3 linked regions of the Homo sapiens genome follow. The protein of the gene in region 3 interacts with the protein of the main gene of each other region in a biochemical or structural test. Each region holds a gene or a part of one and is shown on either strand. Other genes may lie near its edges.

Region 1 (7,107 bases), on a different chromosome or scaffold from region 3:
AACACCAGTAGCCCAGGCTCTTGGTCAAGGGCAAAATGAAGGTTAAGCCACAACTGAGGGCTGCTGCTGCTGAAACGTTTTATCATATCCAGGAGTCTAGACAGCATCATCTGCTTCCAACAGCTTTGTGCAGTTGCAGCACTGGGGACATAAAAAGAAACCGAGGAAGCAGCAAGGCAGCTGCATGCCTGCCTGAATGCACACATCCCTAACAGCCAAGCCCGCCTGCAGGAAACCAGCTGTGTGCATCTAACATGGAAGTACATAGGATATCTTATTTACAAAATACTCAGAGTTAATATTACAAAAAAAGGAAATTCTTTTTCCCTAGGTTATGAATGCTTTGCCCAATTGCTGTTTCTCATGCTCATTTAAGGAGGGTTTGGTGGATTTATTTTTCTTTTTTGCAGCTGTTTTAAAAGCAACAGATACAAAATTATAATTAACATAAGTTATTCTCTATTCCACAATACCACCCTAGAACATATAGTTCAGCCTGGGAATCAGCTCAGAAAAAAAGATTGGAAGTGGTAAAGACAGGAGCTCAATCTTTATTGGAAACAGAGTAATCCCCTCTCCACCCATCTTATTTTAAGTCAACCTGACCAGGGGTCCCAGGAAACCCTCTCAGATGTGGTAAGCAAAGGAATATTTTTCCTTTCCAACACACTTGAAGGCCAGAAGAGAGGCAGAAAGGAAGGGCTTGTTTTTTGATTACATCAGTCTCACAGCAAGCCCTTAAATTCAACCCAAACTGGAACAGGGGCTAGTGATTGATCCAGTGGCTGGCCCAGACTGGCCTGTGCTAGTGCATCCAACCCCTGATCTGCCCCAACCTCCAACTTAAGTAACCGGGGCAAGGCAAGAGTAAGGAGTGAGTCAAAGAGTTAGGGTCAAACAGAGTCCACTGGCCTCCAGCCGGGGAGGAAATCTTTCAGACAGACAGACAGACACACACACGCACACACACACACACACGTAAATAAAAAAATAATTTTAAACAAGAAATGAAGAAAGTGTATCCAATCCTGGAGATGCCCTGGCAGAAGAGGAAAATAACCTTTGCTCTTATTTACCTCTCCATCATGAAAAAGATCCTATTACAGCACTATCCAAGCCAATTTTCTAAAAAAGTCCAGGTAATGTTCCTTTGTAGCTTTGCCAGGTACTCAGAACAAGCAAGCTTCACCCTCCCTTCCCACTCTCCTGACAGGCTTCTTTCTCATGGATGAAGGGGAACACGGGCTTGGCTGGGAATACCTGGCGCCAGGGGTCCTATCAGGTGACACAAGCGTGTGTTAATCCTCAAAGGGCATGGCTTACACCTGATCGCGATGCAGCACTACGGCTCTTACAGGTCCTCGGTTAAGAATTAGCTTGGCTTCTCAGGCTTTCTTTCCTTTTGTGGACACTTGTACATGTCTCACCAGACCCACATTCTCAGGCAGTCATGCACAGCTCACTAATTTTCTGTATGGGTAGATGAACTTCTGCTGGGCACCCATATTCTGCCCACTGGGAAATTTATACCTAAACTCCCAAGGGCTTCTGGCCAATGATTCAGAAGTTTGAGAGCCCCAAGGTGCAAGGCTCCCTTAAGAACCTCAGAAAACTGTACCTGTCATCAATAGAGTCCACCTTCTCCTGGATGCGATCTGAGTTGATGTTCCCATCGCTCACCAGCCTCCGGCCAGTCTCCACCACAGCATTGATCTTCTCCTCATTGGCGTCCATGGTGGTCATGAAGTCCTCTTGCTTTTTAATTGCTGCTTCAGCTCCTTCCAAGGTGGTAGGCATTTCAGTGTGAGCCAGAACATACTCCTTATTTAAAAAGAGGAACAAATCATAGCAGATCAATGAAGGATCTCATTTTCCTGTGTTCTACATTTCCGTGCAACATAGTTCACAACACTTTCTTCATTACACTTACATGAAATAATTAAATCACATCAAATTAAAAGTTAGGAGGAAAAAAACCCAGTGGGACACTGTAACTGACCGAATTTCCCTCAGGGGTTAATGCTCTAAATTTTTTTTTCCAAAGAGAGTGAGGAAAGGAACCAAAGCTTTGTGTATCAGCCTCAAGGGTCCTCTCACGTGCCTATCAAGGCAACAGCAATGTACCCTTCATACTCTCTCTTTGAGACAGTAACAGCCCTGAAGTTGGTGACTATCCTCAGCTGTTTTTATTTCTCTAATCTCTACTTTGTGTCCTCAGGTGAAGTCCCTGACCCTTCTAGAGCAAGAAGACAGACTGGTCTCAAGAAAAAAAAAAATCCTCACCGTACTTTTTTTTTTTTTTTTTTTTTAAGAGACAGGGTCTCACCCTGCCACCAGGCTGGAGTGCAGTGGCACGATCACGGCTAACTTCACCCTTGACCTGCTGGGCTCAAGTGATTCTCCTGTCCCAGCCTCCCCAAGAGCTGGGATTACAGGAGTGAGTCATCATGCCTGGCCCTCACTGTATCTTTTAAATTGGATCAATACCTCAATTATGAAGACATACTATGAACACATAAGAGATCCTCAATGGCAGTTGAAATCAAACAGTACTTTGTAAGGCAAAGCAGCTCTTATGGCAACTTTCAATTCCTGTCCCCTACAACGTGATGGATTTCAATGCCTTAAGAGTATGGGGAAAAAAAAATCAGTCTCTAAATTATCCATATAATTCCATACAGGTGTGGTTTAAACCAGCTGCCCCAGCCAAAACATTTCAAAAGGCAGCCAGGGCTGCTTTCACCGAAAGGAAGCAAAGGCAGGAACAAACCTTACCTGGTTGTTAAGAAAGGCTTCGGCTTGCTTCGTGTCTCTGAGGAACTGCTGGTAGGCATGTGACTGGGATAGGAGATTTTGTCTGTTCTCCCACATCTTGTGGAGCTCGTTCCATCCAGTGTCCAGGGCCTGCAGCCGCTGCCGCAGAAACATGTACTGGGCATCGGTCTGCCCCTGGGTGACCATCTCGCCCATGTCCCTCATCTTCTGGTAGTCCTCCTCGTAGTTGTCGATCTCGTTCTTGATGTTCTCGTGCTGCGTGAGCAGCTTCTCAGCCTCGGTCAGGGTGTTTGGCATGTCCTCCGAGGCGATCGCTGTCTGGGTCCTAGAGAGCCAGGACTGGAAGTCGTCCAAGTCCCGTAGGAACTGCTGCAGCTTGCTGGCCTCTCCCAGGGAGGCCTCTCGGTTTTTCAGGGTGGTCTTCATCTCCTCCCACACGTCGCTGATCTCGGCCAGCCGAGACAGGATGGCCTGGGCCTGGTCGGGGTGCTCGGACTCCAGCTTCTCCGCCTCCTTCTGCAGGTCACTCAGCTTTGCCTCAATGGCCACCAAGTCCCGCTCCATGCCGGTCAGCTTGCGCTGCAGGGCCATGACGCCAGCCAGGTCATTGCCCAGGTCCTGGGTGGACTCGATGACCTTGGTCTTTTCCCGAATCCAGGATTTGGTTTCATTGCACTCGAGGTGGTAGTTCTGGATGCTCAGGGCAGACAGGAGGGCATCCTTCTTCCTGTCAACCAGTTCTCTGAACTGGCTCCACCTGTGAGTGCAGGGGCAGACAGCGAGTGTGAAAAAGGGAAGACTGACCATGGCTGGATTGCAAAAGGAACAGTGATGGGTTAATGCTGCTTATCTGTTTTCTCCATCTGTGCTTTGACTACATGCTTTTTTGGAAAATCATCTCACTCAAACTGTGAACACCAAATATAATGGAAATAGCTCAGGGATGCAATGTAATCTGGAAAAAGCCTGTCACGAAGAGGAATGTGTTACAGAGCTCCAATGTGAGCAATTACAAGATATCCATTCCCAGAGTCAATTAATTCATGTCTGTGACACATTTTACACATCTCTGAACTCTACCTAATGAACGTTTTCCAAATCTAAGACTGATGGTAACCTTCAAAACTGGGGCCAGGTGCCATAACCTACTCAAACATGTTTACTCAACAGAAAGATAAGACTGGAACAAAGGTCTGCCCTGACAATCAGGACTTTCATTGGCAAATTAAGTGTTAAACATGCTAGAGTCCTGTTCCTGAAGTTACTATAAAATGGATAGCACAGGTGTCATCTTAATACCTTCTACACTGGACACAGGTCAAACCAAGGCCCTAACTTTGGTGTGGCGAGGGGCAGATGCTGGGCTGACTCAGATAATCCTCCTGCAACCAATGATGTTGCCCTGAGAGACACTTCTTACAAAACAAGGACATGTCAAAAGGCAGGTGCCAATGCCATGACATCAGTGTTGCAATGTCGATGACCCCATGTGGGAAATTCCCAACAGCAAAGCTCGATGAGTGACCTCACCCTCCCCAGTCCCACACGTGGGAGGCTGGCACACTGCTGGCCACGTGCTCACCTTGTGTTGAGTTTGTCCTGCTGGGCTTTGATTTCCTTCTCACTTGGGTGGCCGCTGTGCATCAGCTGGCGTGCAATCTGGTTCACCACTGCAACCCGGGAAGCCTGGTTGTTCATTTCTGGTTCTAGGCTCTCAAATCTGAAATGGCAATTTGACAGGGTGGTCACCTCCTGGGCCACTGGTGGTCACAAGGAACAGGCCAGTGGCTGACCAGCGCCCCGCTCACCTGTGCTGGATGACCTCCAGATCCTCCAGCTTCTCTGGGATCTGCATGTTGTTGAGCCACTGCTCCTTCTCGTCGATCCAGAGCTCACAGGCATCAGCCTCGCTGAACATCTTGTACAGGGCCAGAGTGTCCTGGAGTGCCTGCTTCCGCAGCCGCGTCAGCTCTGCCACCTCCTTATACCGCTCCTCGATGCCCGACAGCCTGCCCCTCACGTCTGGAGACTCGGCATGCTCCTGGGGGAGGGCGCTGGCTTGTTCGTGCAGCGTGTCAAGGGTGGGCCTGTAATTGGCGATCTCTTCCGCCACGTCCTTGTGTTTCTTGACCAGAGACTGTGTGGAATACTCATCGTGGCCCACGTCGCTGCTGGAGACAATCTTGAGGATGTCCAGCATCCAGGCATCAATGTCATCAGCATCTGCCTGGAACTGGTGCAGCAGGGAGGCCTCCTCCAGGCGCTTCTTCCGAATGGCCGAGAGCTGCTCTAGGTTGGCCCACTGCTCCCGGATGTAAATGATCCTCTCACGGATCTTCTCCGACCCGAAGTGCTCCTCCGCGATCATGTCTTCGCCTTCCTTGATGGCCTGCTCAAAGTGGCCACTGCGGCCGCTCATCTCGTCCTCGAACGCCCGGTGCTTGCTGAGCAGGCGCATGACGCTGGTCAGGTCTTTCCCGTAATCGTCCGAGGACAGGATCTTCTCCTTCTCCCGTATCCAGCCTTCCTCTTCTGCCATCTCCCAGAAGAACTTCCAGAGGCGGCGGGACTCTTCCAGACGGGCCCTGCGCTCAGCCGCCAGCTGGCAAAGCTCTTGATAACAGAACTCCATGTGGGCCACGCGGTCTCGGATCACCTGGGGGTCACAGGGCTTGTAACCTGTTTAACATCAAGGAAGGAACGTGGCTGTGTGAGGGAGCTCAGCATGGGTGCAGGCTCACTGGCAGGCAGTAAGCTACACCCCATATTCTTATGATTACCAGCTCACTGCTAAATGTAAATGCAGGGCCATGCGATAAGGCAATGGAGCACCTTCTAACAACTTGACTAGAACAGGAGTGAGGGCAATGATAAACATTATTTTTTTTTGGCCAAACCGCAGACAAAGTGATCATCCTCCTGCAAGAAAGCACTTGAATCATATGAAAAAGGCAGCTGCATATAATTGTTTCTAGAAATACACGAAGCATAACCAAATCATTCTAAACATCCTCCAAAGAGAGGTATATGCAACCAGCTGTGAAAGCCAGGAGCTGCTGGAACAGCCACACCAGGGTGTCGGTGCATGGCCAGAGAGACTGAGGTATGACAAAGTCTCACTGCCAAACACCAAGCCACTCAAAGCAAAGGCAGCATTTGCGTATTTAAGGAAAGGATGTATCAATTCCAGAAAAACAAGATGGAGTTAGTGTTCAGAAGGCCACTCCACCGTATTTCATGCTCCCATGACAAACCCACCAGGAATGTATAGTGGCACAGTAACTTCAAAAGCCCCACTGTGTTTCTATAAATATGAATCTCTGGTGACCCGGAGGTAATGCTTGGAATGGGCCATCCTTACCTTCCCCGTCTGTTGCGAACTTCTGGGCGGAGGCATTGACACCTCTCACCCGCTCTGCCTGGATGCCAATGTCTGCTTCAACCAGGGTGTGCTTCTGTAACAGGTCTTCCACACCAAGTAAGTGTTTGCCATAGTCTTGAGACAATACTAGCACCTGTGCACAAGAAGCAACCAAAAGGACATCTGTGACTATAGCCTTGACTTCAGCATCACATCATCTTTCGACAAGCAGAGAGCCAGCAATGAAGCTATGCCTTCCCTCTAGTCTGCCATGGACCCCACACCTTCAGGGGAAGATGATGGCCAACAAACCAGAACAAAACAAATCATACCTGAAGGCCTGAGTCAGGAGAGCTATCACAAACTAAGGATCACCAAACTTGGAATAAGTAAGTCAAATCTACACTAAAAAGTGCAGAATAGAAGAAAAAGATGGTGAGGGCCAGCGGGGCCAGGGTGGGGGGGAGGGGGCAGTGGGGAGCGTGGGCGGGGGTGCTGTATGAAAGATTCCAAAATATAAACTGGAGCTTCAAGAAGAAACCGCTGCAACAACTACTCAAAAATAAATAAATAAAGGTGATAGACTTGGTCACTTCAAAGTTGAAAGAAATCTTTTAGAAGTTGCTGAGCCTGTAAGTGAATGTTTTTCCTCTGTTAGGAGCTTATTGGTATGCCTCTACTGTACTTACACAATCAATGGGAAAACAATCTACTTGAAAAGCTTACAAGCCACATCTTTAAACCAATAAGGAGAGCAGGGTCAGGTGGCTGTCTTGCTTAGTAGACCCCAAGCAACTTCTAGAGTTTAAGTTTGAACCCACTGATATTTTCTTGTTTCTTCCATCAACCAGCGAAATTTGGGGGCCTCATTCTACATCCTCGCCAGATGAGATTTCTACTTCACTCTTACTTCTGAGGAAGTCTCTGGACCAACTGAGTTACAATGTGCATCATGATTTATAAAATGAAAA
Region 2 (7,107 bases), on a different chromosome or scaffold from region 3:
GAGGTTCTAGAGAGGAGGAAAAGCCTGCAAAGAGGGGGCCGTACTGGGGCCAGGCCGCCTAGGCCAGCATGTGGTCTGCAGTGGGGTACGGGGGCCTGAGGCCGTCGCTGTAGGTGTCGATGGGGTAGTCTCCATCCATGTCCATGTGCATCTCCAGCGGGTCAAGGGGCACATCGCTGGAGTACATGGGGCGGTAGGTGGCATCCATGTCTGGGGACAAAAAGTGGGGCTCGGTCCTAGGGTCTGCAAGCTACCCTGCAGGGAGCAGTCTGCACAGCCTTCAGCTGCCTCCTCTACCCATGCCCACCCCTGGTGGGCCTGACCCCTCCCCAGACCCCACACCAGGGCATCTAGACTGGGGTACATGTGGATGCCACACAGCAGTTGCCACTGGTCCTCTGGCCCCGGAGACATAATATTGTCCCCTCACACACACCCACACAGCCGCCCAGGATCTCCAGGGTCCTGAAGAGCCCGGCACACACTTACCATCTCCATAGGGCTCATTGATGGGAATCATGCTCTGGGCCTGAAAAAGGAGAGAGAAACATGGAGGGGAGGTTTGAAAATGCAGGCTCCGAGCTGGATCTCAGCTGGTGGGCAGGGAGAGATGCTTCTAAAAGAGGGGGCCAGGCTGGGTGCCATGGCTCACGCCTGTAATCCCAGCACTCTGGGAGACAGCAGGCGGATCACTTGAGGTCAGGAGTTCCAGACCAGCCTGGCCAACATGGTGAAACCCTGTCTCTACTAAAAATACAAAAAAAATTAGCTGGGCGTGGTGGTGCAGGCCTGTAATCCCAGCTACTCGGGAGGCTGAGGCAGGAGAATTGCTTGAATGGGGAGGCAGAGGATGCAGTGAGCCGAGATTACACCATTGCACTCCAGCCTGGGCGACAGGAGTGAGACTCTGTCTCGAAAAAAATAAAAAATAGGCTGGGCGCAGTGGCTCACGCCTGTAATCCCAGCACTTTGGGAGGCCAAGGCGGGCGGATCACAAGGTCAGGAGACAATCGAGATCATCCTGGCCAACATGGCGAAACCGCGTCTCTACTAAAAATAGAAAAATTAGCCGGGTGTGGTAGCGTGCACCTGTAGTCCCAGTTACTCAGAAGGCTGAGGCAGGAGAATTGCTTGAAACCGGGAGGCGGAGGTTGCAGTGAGCCAAGATCACACCACTGCACTCCAGCCTGGCGACAGAGCAAGACTCCATCTCAAAAAATATAAAAATAAATAAATAAATAAAAGAGGGGGCTGGAGAAAAGCAAAGAGGCCTTGGAGGAATAGAGGATGATGAAATGGGGTCACCCAGTGCCCTGATATACTCATGTCCTCGGTACTCCCCAGGGAGGAGGGTTCCCCACTCATGAAGCAGGGACTCCTGCCGGACTAGAGCAGCTCAGGGGAGGAGGCAGAGGACTCAAGAATGGGTACAGGGCACTGCCCCACCCTGGAAAAGACCGCCCATAGCCTATCCAGCACCTCCACGCAAATTACAAAAAGGCACCCCCACCTCAAACACTGTATACTCATTTGGGCAAAATAAAAATTGGCATTTTGTGGATATATGATTCAACCCACTACTTCCATCTGCTAGGAATTGTTATAAATGATCCAATTACAAAATAAAAATCTATGAAGTTGACAGTAGTAGGAGACCCCCAAAAGTGTTGCCCATGGGCAGTGCCCAACTTGCACAACCAACTACTGTGGTCCAACCTAGGATACTCACAGCCTCCCAGGCAGCCGGGTCATGCTTGAAGAGGGAGTTGGTGAGCTCCACGGACACGCGCTTCCGGTAGTCTGGGTTCTTGTCCTCGGAGATGCGGAACAGGACGGCAGCAGCGTAGGTGGCTGAGCAGAGAGGAAAGGAAAAGCCAGGTTAAACGTCGGCCAGCCTCCATCGTGGCTGGGGGAGTGGGACCCAGCCTCCTGCCCTCCCCCAGCTCACCAGTGCCCTCGTTGCGGGAGTGCAGCAACTCCATGAGTGGGGCCGAGGCCCCCTCTGCATCAATGGCGTCGGCCGCCTCCTTGTCCTGGGCCAGCTCACACAGCACCCCGGCAGCCACGCGCTGGATGTTCTCCACCGACGAGTACAGGAGCTGGGGAGAGGGGACGTGGGAAGCAGGGGAGAGGTGGAAAGGGGTGAGGCAGGCCGGACAACACACCCCACAGCACTGCCCACCTCCACCCTGTAGCAATTCCATAGTGGAAAATGGGCCGTCACTGGGGAGTAAGTGTTACTGCTTTAAACTGGGCTGAGCATTGTTCATGAGCTACCTTGAAATTACCTGTGACTCTGCCTCATCTAACCATTGGAATCTAGTGTTAATGAGCTCACTGATGTGAAAGATGTTAGACTCTTCTTGTCTGTTATGGTACTTGCACATATTCTCCCAGTTTGCTGATTTTTTAAAAATGCTTTTTTAGGTTCTTTCTGAAATACAGATGGTTTTCATGTTTATATGGTTGAATCTCAAGTTTTTTTGTTTTTTGTTTTTTTTTTCCATTTGTGATCTCTTTCCTTGCTTTGAAGCTTAGAAAGCCATGCCCATGCAGGGGGTTGCTAAGTAGTCAATCTGGAGTGGCAACTTTCCTCCAAACTCCTCCAAAGACCTCTTGATACCTGGTCCAGGCCTCCCAAATCTGGGACTCCTAACCTTGCCCTTTAAGCAGTGGTGGGGGGACCTCTCCTGCCCACCTGCCCCAGACTCACCTGCACAAACAGGGGAATGGTGTTGAGCCGGAAGATCTCCATGCGGTTCATGGGGTCCCGGGCGAGGATGTGCAGTGCTCCGGTGCAGCCCTCCACAATCTCCTCCATCCTCACACCATCCTGTGTGAGAGGAGGCAGGGGGCATGGGACAGGTGCCTTGGACATGGCCACAACTCCTCCCCATGACAGCCGAATGAACTTCACAGGTTCTTGGAATTGGCATCAGTTGCAACTGACCTCCCCATTCACACACACACCCACAGAGGACACCCTGACCCCCCAGGAAGGCTGTCAGAGGCACCACCAGCTCACATACCGTGTAGGGCTGCTGTGTGCCTGCAGCTACGTGGCGCTGGGCATCCTGGTGGGCCTTCACCAGCAGTTGGACGAGGCGGGGGATGACCGCTGCCTCCTGCAGCGGGGCATGGTTGGCTGGGCACAGGGCCAGATTCCTGATCAAGCCGATGGTTGCCTGGCAAAAAAAGGGGCAGTGATCAGGGGCACTTCTTGGACATCTGAAGGATCCCAGCTTCCCAGCTTCAAGTATCCCTTCCCTCCTTCACCTCTTCTGTCCCCGAGGCCAGACACAGACATACTGGAAAATATCCAGAGAAGGAGACCATCCCAGCCATGTCACTTAATCCACAGGATCTGGGAGTGCTCATGGCTAATTCTTTTTTTTTTTTTTTTTTGAGACAGAGTTTCGCTCTTGTCACCCAGGCTGGAGTGCAGTGGTGCAATCTCACCTCACTGCAACCTCCACCTCCTGGGTTCAAGCGATTCTCCTGCCTCAGCCTCCTGAGTAGCTGCGATTACAGGTGCCTGCCACCATGCCCAGCTAATTTTTTGTATTTTTAGTAGAGACGGGGTTTCGCCATGTTGGGCAGGCTGGCCTCGAACCCCTGACCTCAGGTGATCCGCCTGCTTCTGCCTTCTAAAGTGCTGGGATTACAGGTGTGGGCTACCACGTCCGGCTGCTCATGGCTAATTCTAATAGCCCTTGCTAAAATGACACCCCATTCCAGAACATCCTGCCAGCCCCATGCCTGGCCCCTCACCCTGTCCCCTCTTTCTTAACCACCCCCCACAGACACCATGACCTTGCTTGCTTTTCTGATAGTCCTCCAAGCCTGATTCTCAGGAATTCTGTGCTCTAGGTGCCCCCGAAGCCTCCTGCTTGGGTGGTGCTCACATTGTCATTAATCCCCAGCAGGGCAGCTCTGGAAAGAGGTGTCCTGAGATCTCCTCCCCAGGGTCTTTGACTCAGAGGAGCCACTCTGGCCTCCCAGAGCCTCTCAAGGTGTCATCTATTTCATCCTCAAAACAAGACGCCAGGAGGACAGGGATGAAAATCATGTGAGATGGGGACGTGAGCACAGGGCAAATGACTTGCCAAAGTCACTTGCCACTTAGCTGCTGGGTTAGGATGCAAAGTCCCACCTCAGGTTTGCAGCAGGGACCAAGCATCAAGGAGGGGTCACAATGACATTTTTTTTTCTAAACATGAATTTTCTTTTTTTAATTCAATGTATAGGCCGGGCGCAGTGGCTCACGCCTGTAATCCTAGCACTTTGGGAGGCCAAGGCAGGCAGATCACTTTAGGTCAGGAGTTCGAGACCAGCCTGGCCAACATGGTGAAACCACGTCTCTACTAAAAATACAGAAATTAGCCGGGAATTGCTTGAACCTGGGAGGCGGAGGTTGCAGTGAGCTGAGATCATGCCACTGCACTCCAGCCTGGGCAACAGAGCAAGAATCTGTCTCAAAAATAATAATAATAATAAAAAATAATAATTCAATGTGTAGAATCACTTAGAGTCATTCTTATCTGCACTGGGTTTTTTTTGTTTGTTTGTTTTTTTGTTTGTTTTTTTTGAGACGGAGTCTCGCTCTGTCGCCCAGGCTGGAGTGCAGTGGCGCGATCTCAGCTCACTGCAAGCTCCGCCTCCCGGGTTCACACCATTCTCCTGCCTCAGCCTCCTGAGTAGCTGGGACCACAGGCGCCCGCCACCACGCCTGGCTAATTTCTTTGTATTTTTTTAGTAGAGATGGGGTTTCACCGTGTTAGCCAGGATGGTCTCGATCTCCTGACCTCGTGATCCACACGCCTCGGCCTCCCAAAGTGCTAGGATTACAGGCGTGAGCCACCACGCCTGGCCATGTTTTTTGTTTTTGTTTTCCAAGACGGAGTCTCTCTCTGTCACCCAGGCTGGAGTGCAATGAGCGATCTCAGCTCACTGCAACCTCTGCCTTCCGGGTTCAAGTAATTCTTCTGCCTCAGCCTTCCGAGTAGCTGAGATTACAGGCACATGCCACCATGGCCAGCTAATTTTTGTATTTTTTGTGGAGGCGGGGACTTACTATGTTGGCCAGGCTGGTCTCGAACTCCTAACTTCAGGTAATCCTCCCGCCCCGTCCTCCCAAAGTGCTGGGATTACAGGCGTGAGCCACTGCGCCTGGCCTGTCTGTACTATTAAATTGTCTTAAATGTAGCTGGCGGATGCCCCTGCCAGCTGGCTCCTGTGCCCGTTGACAAGACCCTCATCGATGGTAGCTTCCTCACTCTCTGGCACCAGATGCCACCTTGCCTTTGGCTGCCTTCCTTGTCTCTACATATAGATATACACACACACAAACGCTTTCCCCCATAACTCTGTCCCTTGGGTCTGCCCACACCCTGACCCACTCTCACTTCCCCCACCTGACAGGGAAGTGACACACAGCTAGCTCTCTTCCACCCAGGTAGCCTCAAGAAGAAGACCCCACTCCTTCACACACCCAACTCCCTATGGGAGATGCTAAGCGTCCCCAGAATCCTCTGTGCCCTGTGTCTCTGTAGTGGCTCTCCTGATTTTCAGCAGGACACACGGCCATCTGGCTGGTGATCACACTTCCTAACCTCCTTGCACCTTGATGTGGCTGAATGACCAAGTTCTGGGGTGTGAGCAGGAGTGATGTGTGCCACTTTCTGGTGGCCGCTAGCCATCCCCAGTTCTCAGGGCTAGAACACATCCGTGGGGATGATACAGTCCACTCATTCGTGTGAGGACAACCCTCTCGTCTACACCCAGTGGCATAAGAAATGTGCTCCATGGAGCAGCACCTGCGAGCTTGTTAAAAATACAGAATTGGGCCAGGTGCAGTGGCTCACACCTGTAATCCTAGCACTTTGGAAGGCCAAAGTGGGTGGATCACCAGAAGTCAGGAGTTCAAGACCAGCCTAACCAACATAGAGAAATCCCGTCTCTACTAAAAAATGCAGGAGAATCGCTTGAACCCGGGAGGCGGAGGTTGCAGTAAGCCGAGATCGCACCATTGCACTCCAGCCTGGGCAATAAGAGCAAAACTCCGTCTCAAAAAAAAAAAAAAAAAGAAGAAATACAGAATTGTCCGGGCCTGGTGTCTCACACCTGTAATCCCCGTACTTTGGGAGGCTGAGGCTGGTGGATCACTTGAGTTCAGGAGTTCAAGATCAGTCTGAGCAACATGGCAAAATCCCATCTCTACTAAAAATACAAAAATTATCCAGACATGGTGGCGTGCACCTGTAATCCCAACTACTCAGGAGGCCAAGGCAGGAGAATCACTTGAACCCGGGAAGCAGAGGTTGCAGTGAGCCAAGAATGTACCACTGCACTCCAGCCTGGGCAATAGACATTGTCTCAAAACAACAAAAAAAAGACATACAGAATGGCAAGCCCTCTGCAGCAGGCCTGCAGAGAGACAGAGAGAGAGAGAGAGAGAGAGAGAGAGAGAGAGAGAGAGAGAGAGAGAGAGAGTGTGTGTGTGTGTGTGTGTGTGTGTGTGTTTTAGATTGTTTATTTGTTTGGGCTTTTTTTTTTTTCCAAATTTTTTGTAAGAGATGGGTGTCTCACTATGTTACCCACGATGGTCTCAAACTCCTGGCCTCAAGTGATCCTTCCGCTTCCGCCTCTGCCTGCACCTCCCAAAGTGCTGGAACTACAGATGTGAGCCACTGCACCCAGCCTCCTGTTTTTCTTTTCTTTTAAGACACGGGTTCTTGCTCTGTCACCCAGGCTGGAGTGCACTGATGCAATCATAGCTCACTGTAACCTCCAACTCCTGTGCTCAAGCGATCCTCCGACCTGAGCCTCCCCTCCCCAGTAGCTGGGACCACAGGCGTGCACCACCACACCTGGCTAATTTCTGTTGTTGTTATTGTTGTCGAGACAGGTCTTGCTATGTTGTCCAGGCTGGTCTCAAATTCCTGGCCTCAAGCAATCCTCCTACCTTTGCCTCCCAAAGTGTTGGGATTACAGGCATGAGCCACCGTGCCTGGCCCTGGAACCTGCAATTTAATGAAACCACCCAGGGTACTCATGTGCATTTTGAACTCTGAGCTCTGCCCTAGGGGCTGGTAGAGCTACAAGATA
Region 3 (7,107 bases):
AGGTTATTTGTTCACAAATTCAGAAAACAATTGGAGATGTTATCTCCATCTAAGGCACTGCCCATTTATGGGTACTGCCACAGGGATGAATTTGACATAAGACTCTGGACTATGCAATCTACCATCAGGCACGAAAGATCTATGAAGTTCTCCCAAGGGTTAGTAAAGCACCTGTAAATAGCAGGGCTCGATTTACCTTAGCTGATATCCAATAACCTAAAAAACCTACATCATTGTTGAAATTCTCCGACTGGAAAAGAAACCTAACACACAACTACAGGTTTCAAGGCCGGGCACTGTGGCTCATGCCTGCAATCCCAGCACTCTGGCAGGCCGAGGCAGGCGGATTGTTTGAGCTTGGGAGTTTGAGACCAGCCTGGGCAACTAGTGAAACCCCATCTCTACTAAAAATAAAAACTGCAGGTTTCAAGAAGTTTATCTTCCGTATTTAAAGTCTTCCTTCCACATTTGTAACATAATAAGGACAATTTTTCTAGCATTAATTATTAGTAAACTGTGGATTACCATTTTACTTTTTATCAATTCTGAATTTCCCAAAACATGATTCCTTTATACCCAGATTTATGTCAAGCTCCAACCAGTTCAAATATGCATGGCTGATTTAACATACTATTCTGACACAATAGGACAATTTCTAGAGTATTTTCAGAGTAGGTAGATATTTTTCCATTTTATCACACCCATCTCTTCAGCATGAACTAAAAAGAAGTATTACACAGGATGAAAAGTAAACTTCGGTCCCATTTCTTTCCTATCAATTTGTGTTACAACATTTCTAAGACTTAACTATTACTTGAAATACCCAAGAGAAGTGGATTCAGATTCTCCAGATGTCCCTCTGCAAGCATCTCTCATGATTAAAATGAGCCAGTCCAACTTAATACATCTCCAATAACTAAGTTACTGAGCAACTGGCAAGCATAAGAATGAGAATTAAAATATGAGCCAGTCCAACTTAATACATCTCCAATAACTAAGTAAGTTACTGAGCAATTGGCAAGCATAAGAATGAGAATACTGACCACAAAAAAAATCTTCAAACACTGATTTTCTAGAAAGGCCTGCCTCTCTTTACCTAAAAAGCAGTAATGACCTACCTTGTTTTCGAACATCTTCTACAGCAGCCACAAGCTCCTCCTTGAGAAACTGGCTCTCCTTCGCAATTTTATCCCCCTTCTCCAAGAAATTCTCAGTTGCTTGTTCAACAGATGCAGCCAAAACATGGGCCTTCTTAGAACGACCTCTCTTCTTATTAGAGGGCCCTTTACTATTGGTGTTTACAAGGGTTGTAACCTAAAAGTTTCATTTTTAACATTAAACTGGAGTCAATTAAAATGACAAACTAATATCTTTAAAGACAGCAAGATTAAGTTATTCTTTTAAAAAATCACATGAGATTCCACTGAACATTAACATACAATTCCCCATATTTAAGATATACAGCAATGATGCTATATTTAATTTCCAAAATAATTCAGCTTTCTTAATGTGTACAGAGAATTATTTAACACATATTTTAATTTCTCAAATATGATCATTAGGTTTTTAGTTTGATTTTACAAATTAAAAAATGATTAGAGACAAGTTAGATGTCTCTACTATATGTCACCAAGATGTTCCAGAAAGAGGTTAACAATGAACTTAGCTTTATCTGGAGATCACACTGCCACTGTTTTCAAACTTTGCAAAACATTTTAAGATAATTTGCTTCTGAAGTCTTTTGACAGTTTATTCACACAAATCTCAGCAATTAGTAAAGGTCCCAATAAACGAATGATTGCCCAAAGAAGCCTACAGTGATGACGCTTTATGTCTTAGAACATTACCATCATTAATACACATAATACCAGATTATCTCTAGGTTAAAGATGATGAATATATGTTATAGTGTAAATTTGCCAAACAAGACTCATTTTCTCTCTCTCTCTCTGAATCTCTCACATACAAACAATAGACATACTATTGTAAAACACTAAAAGTACACAGCTAGTTGCTAACAGTTTATGAACTACCCTAACATTGTGACATTTGTAGCATACCAAACCTAAACCCTCAAGTTGAATTACCTGCTAATTAATCCCACACAATGAAAGGTGTGTTAAGCAGAGTGAGAGACCTTAACAATCAAGGATCCAGACTCCACCTTTCTTGGGTTTCCCCTCTGAAGAAAGGTGAAGTATCTGCAAAGCACAAACATTTGCAAAGTTGCACTACATACCATGGACCCGTTACTAGCAATAAGACTGAAGAAAACGACAGCAGCAGCGTTCTCAAGGGTTAACTAAACCCATGCATCAATATTCAAATCATCTAAGAACTGTCACCTAAACTCAAGTACTGGAATTAAGGCTTTGAACTAAATAACCTTGCTCTTATGGTTGTTACCCAGGCCTGTGCTATAGAACCATGTTACAATGTATTTGTGTTTTCAGATTCTTACCTGTGTAACAAGAGGCTCCAACAGTCTCTCAACTGCCAGAGTCCTGATCTCTAGACTTTTAGGATCCCACTTGAAGTTTATGTTGCCTGCATGGACAGCAGTCATTTCTAAATAAGAAACAAAAAGTCAGTCAGGCAAACATCAAACACAAACATGAAATATGTAACAAATCTTCTCCTACTTTGGGACTTTTGCATCAGGAAAGCTATATTCACTATAGATGAAAAAATTCTAACTAGCCTACACATGAAGACCCAGTAAACCTTACAACCTCTTAATATTTAATGATTTCAGGCTTACAAATAGGAGGGGTACTACAAGAGGGCATTCCCAAACACACAGAATGTTTCCCTTTGGGCTTCTCTAGCACCAAGACTTCCTACCTCAGTTCCTACTCACTTTATCTGCCCCACCTTTAGAAACAAGATGAAAAGCTAAAGTGAATGAAAGCTACTTTCTTTTTTTTTTTTTTTTTGAGACAGAGTCTTGCTCTTTCGCCCAGGCTGGAGGGCAGTGGTGGATCTCAGCTCACTGCAAGCTCCGCCTCCTGGGTTCACGCCATTCTCTGGCCTCAGCCTCCCAAGTGGCTGTGACTACAGGGGCCCGCCACCACGCCCGGCTAATTTTTTTGCATTTTTAGTAGAGACGGGGTTTCACCGTGTTAGCCAGGATATGATGGTCTCGATCTCCTGACCTCATGATCCACCTGCCTCGGCCTCCCAAAGTGCTGGGATTATAGGCGTGAGCCACCGCACCCGGCCAAAAGCTACTTTCAAAGACACTGCTTCAAAAACGAATACAGAAGATCCTGATTTTTCCTACTCCACAACATTCATGGTACAGTAGTATCTAAAAGGTATGCTTCACTTCATTTTTTGATGGATTCCTAGAGAAGGACTTGTCTTATTCTATTAAAACATAATGTTTAAATCAGCTGCCCTCTGCACCCACAGCTATTATCACTCATAGCCAGAAGAAATTTCAAATCACACTTAGTCAAATATCACTGTATCAGTGTCAAGAGAAACTTCTGTCAGACAGCGGCTTTAAGAATAGGGAGAAAACATCAACGAAAATAACAGTTAGTCTTTTCTTCTAAAAGTAGTGCCTTCAATTATTAAAGAAAAAAAGAAAAGAAAAGGCATGAAGCTGAGGTAAACACTAATATAAACTTTCTAGACAACAAACTGCTGGTAGACATTTAAAAGCTTAAAGGCTGGGCGTGGTGGCTCACTCCTGTAATCCCAGCACTTTGGGAAGCCAAGGCGGGCAGATCACCTGAGGTCGGGAGTTCGACACCAGCCTGACCAACAAGGATAAACCCTGTCTCTACTAAAAATACAAAATTAGCCAGGCTGGTGGTGCACGCCTGTAATCCCAGCTACTCGGGAGGCTGAGGCAGAAGAATCGCTTGAACCCGGGAGGCAGAGGCTGCAGTGAGCCGAGATTGTGCCATTGCACTCCAGCCTGGGCAACAAGAAAAAAACTCCATCTTAAAAAATAATAATAATAATAAAAATTAAAAAAATAAAATCTTGGCCAGGCGCAGTGGCTCACGCCTGTAATCCCAGCACTTTGGGAGGCTGAGGCGGGCAGATCATGAGGTCAGGAGATTGAGACCATCCTGCCTAACACGGTGAAACCCAGTCTCTACTAAAAATACAAAAAAAAAATTAGCCAGGCGCAGTGGCGGGCACCTGTAGTCCCAGCTACTCGGGAGGCTGAGGCAGGAAAATGGCGTGAACCCCAGAGACGGAGCTTGCAGTAGCAGAGATAGCGCCACTGCAGTCCGGCCTGGGCGAAAGAGCAAGACTCCGTCTCAAAAAAATAAAAAATAAAATAAATAAATAAAATAAAATCTTTAAAAAGTACATTTGTATGACCCAGAAAATCTACTGCTAAAATCTTATTCTAAAGTTAAGGAACATGTAAAAACTGGGATACAATGATGTTCACAACACTGCTTTATATAAACATTAAAAGTTATAAATTACCTAAATTTCAAACAACAGATCACTCAATAAATTATGTAACAATGACACAACGGGCTACAATGTTACTCTTAAAAACAATGTTGGCAAATTAAAAAACAAAACAACCAGCCTGGCCAACATAGTGAAACCCCGTCTCTATTAAAACTACAAAAATTAGTCCAGTGTGGTGGTACACGCCCGTAATCCCAGCTGCTCAGGAGGCTGAGGCAGGAAAACCACTTGAACCTGGGAGGTGGAGGTTGCAGTGAGCCAAGATCGCACCACTGCACTCCAGCCTGGGCAACAGAGCAAGCTCTTGTCTCAAAAAAAAAACAAAAACAAAAAAAAACCAGTGTTATCAGTGCCCAAGTATTTATTTCTATTAAATACCATTTGCATGGTGGTTCATGCCTGTGATACCAGCACTTTGGAAGGCCAAGGCAGGAGGATCACTTAAGCCCAGGAGTTTGAGACCAGCCTGGGCCACACAGAGAGATCCCATTTCTACTTATTTTTTTTTTAAAAAACGGACCATTTCCCATTAATAGAAACCAAAGTTCCAGGTCTGAAGCACTGTATTGTGCGGAAAGGGGACAAGACTAACAAGATCATATCAAAAGACACAGGAAGCAAGGGCTCCCATCAGCCAAATTTAGGACAACTATCAAAGAGAATAATGACTGTAACTGTCTGTAACTAAATAATTAAATAAATATCCTTAAGACCATAGGGATCCTCAAAAGAAAGGGTATGGGGAGGGAATTTCTTTACCATGAATCTAGAATAGAATTAGAAAATGACCATCTTGCAACCCCCACTGGTAAAAACTGATCCAGCCAAGGATTAGCAATGAATGTCAAAACTACTGGGTGAAAACTGGCCAGGCATGGTGGTTCATGCTTGTAATTCCAGCACTTAGGGAGGCCAAAGTGGGTGGATCACCTGAGGTCAGGAGTTCGAGACCAGCCTGGCCAATGTGGTGAAACCCTCTCTCTACTAAAAATACAAAAATTAGCCAGGCGTAGTGGCGGTTGCTTGTGATCGCAGCTACTCATGAGGCTGAGCCAGGAGAATCGCTGGAACCTGGGAGGCAGAGGTTGCAATGAGCCGAGATCATGCCACTGCACTCCAGCCTAGGCAACAGAGCAAGATTCCATCTCAAAAAAAAAACGTAACTTTGAACTAGATCCCTCATAAAAGACTACCAACCACTGCCTTCTTCAGAGAGCTTTAGTGGAGATTAGATAGAACAAAGTATGATCCATTGACTAATGCATGAGTCCATGCTAATATGAATAAAGAAGGAAAAGTTCTTCCAAACAATAGGAAACAAACTAATAAATGTAGAAAGAACAATGTATTTAGAAAAATCAGCATTCAGGAACCATAATATTAATTGCCTCAGGCAAGAATCAAAGAATGCTAACCAAGTAGATTAGCATTCAGTTTCTCAGTAGCGTGATCTAGTGTCATAGTAACTCCCAACAGATTATTTATTTATGACAGATGGGGGAAATAGTAACTTCACAGTCCAGAAACCTGAGATGCCACCTTAACCAAGTAATCAAAATTACTGTCCCTAATAAGGACACAAACCCACATCACGTATCTCCTAACACGATGCACTGAGAAGGATACAACATCACCTCTGTGTTATTTCGCCTGAAAATTACATAACCTCAACTAGTCATGAGGCAACATCAAATTCAAAGCGTGAGACGATCTACAAAATAACTGGCTGTAGTCTTGAAAAATGTCAAAGCAGCCGGGCGCGGAGGCTCACGTCTGTAATCCCAGCACTTTGGGAGGCCAAGGCGGGTGGATCACGAGTTCAGGAGATCGAAACCATCCTGGTCAACACTGTGAAACCCCGTCTCTACTAAAAATACCAAAAAATTAGCCGGGCGTGGTGGCGGTCGCCTGTAGTCCCAGCTACTCGGGAGGCTGAGGCAGGAGAATGGCATGAACCTGGGGGAGCAGAACTTGCAGTGAGTGGAGATGGTGCCACTGCACTCCTGCCTGGGCCACAGAGCAAGACTCTGTTTAAAAAAAAAAAAAAAAAAAAAAAGACAGATTAAGAAACATTTCCCCTCCCCCTCTCCCTCCTCCCCCTCTCCCTCCTCCCCCTCTCCCTCCTCCCCCTCTCCCTCCTCTCCCTCTCCCTCCTCTCCCTCTCCCTCTCCCCACGGTCTCCCTCTCCCTCTCTTTCCACGGTCTCCCACTGATGCCGAGCTGAAGCTGGACTGTACTGCTGCCATCTCAGCTCGCTGCAGCCTCCCTGCCTGATTCTCCTGCCTCAGCCTGCCGAGTGCCTGTGATTGCAGGCGCGCACCGCCATGCCTGACTGGTTTTTGTATTTTTTTGGTGGAGACGGGGTTTCACTGTGTTAGCCGGGCTGGTCTCCAGCTCCTAACCGCGAGTGATCCGCCAGCCTCGGCCTCCAGAGGTGCCGGGATTGCAGACGGAGTCTGGTTCACTCAGTGCTCAATGGTGCCCAGGCTGGAGTGCAGTGGCGTGATCTCGGCTCGCTACAACCTCCACCTCCCAGCCGCCTGCCTTGGCCTCCCAAAGTGCCGAGATTGCAGCCTCTGCCCGGCCGCCACCCCGTCTGGGAAGTGAGGAGCGTCTCTGCCTGGCCGCCCATCGTCTGGGACGTGAGGAGCCCCTCTGCCT

What was found.
Region 1: the proteins of CTNNA1 (region 3) and SPTBN1 form a complex in vitro, tested with the Homo sapiens proteins (one study listed by BioGRID).
Region 2: the proteins of CTNNA1 (region 3) and JUP form a complex in vitro, tested with the Homo sapiens proteins (2 studies listed by BioGRID).

Annotation. Positions count from the first base shown.
Region 1 is NC_000002.12:54,627,280-54,634,386, reverse strand, and holds part of SPTBN1 (spectrin beta chain, non-erythrocytic 1), read right to left. Parts: intron 6,291-7,107; coding exon 6,137-6,290; intron 5,455-6,136; coding exon 4,584-5,454; intron 4,496-4,583; coding exon 4,358-4,495; intron 3,533-4,357; coding exon 2,776-3,532; intron 1,822-2,775; coding exon 1,619-1,821; intron 1-1,618. UniProt on the Homo sapiens protein: Fodrin, which seems to be involved in secretion, interacts with calmodulin in a calcium-dependent manner and is thus candidate for the calcium-dependent movement of the cytoskeleton at the membrane.
Region 2 is NC_000017.11:41,755,686-41,762,792, forward strand, and holds part of JUP (junction plakoglobin), read right to left. Parts: intron 3,186-7,107; coding exon 3,030-3,185; intron 2,834-3,029; coding exon 2,714-2,833; intron 2,100-2,713; coding exon 1,949-2,099; intron 1,852-1,948; coding exon 1,730-1,851; intron 530-1,729; coding exon 490-529; intron 211-489; coding exon 59-210; 3' UTR 1-58. UniProt on the Homo sapiens protein: Common junctional plaque protein. The membrane-associated plaques are architectural elements in an important strategic position to influence the arrangement and function of both the cytoskeleton and the cells within the tissue.
Region 3 is NC_000005.10:138,777,384-138,784,490, reverse strand, and holds part of CTNNA1 (catenin alpha-1), read right to left. Parts: intron 2,569-7,107; 5' UTR 2,567-2,568; coding exon 2,462-2,566; intron 1,315-2,461; coding exon 1,119-1,314; intron 1-1,118. UniProt on the Homo sapiens protein: Associates with the cytoplasmic domain of a variety of cadherins. The association of catenins to cadherins produces a complex which is linked to the actin filament network, and which seems to be of primary importance for cadherins cell-adhesion properties.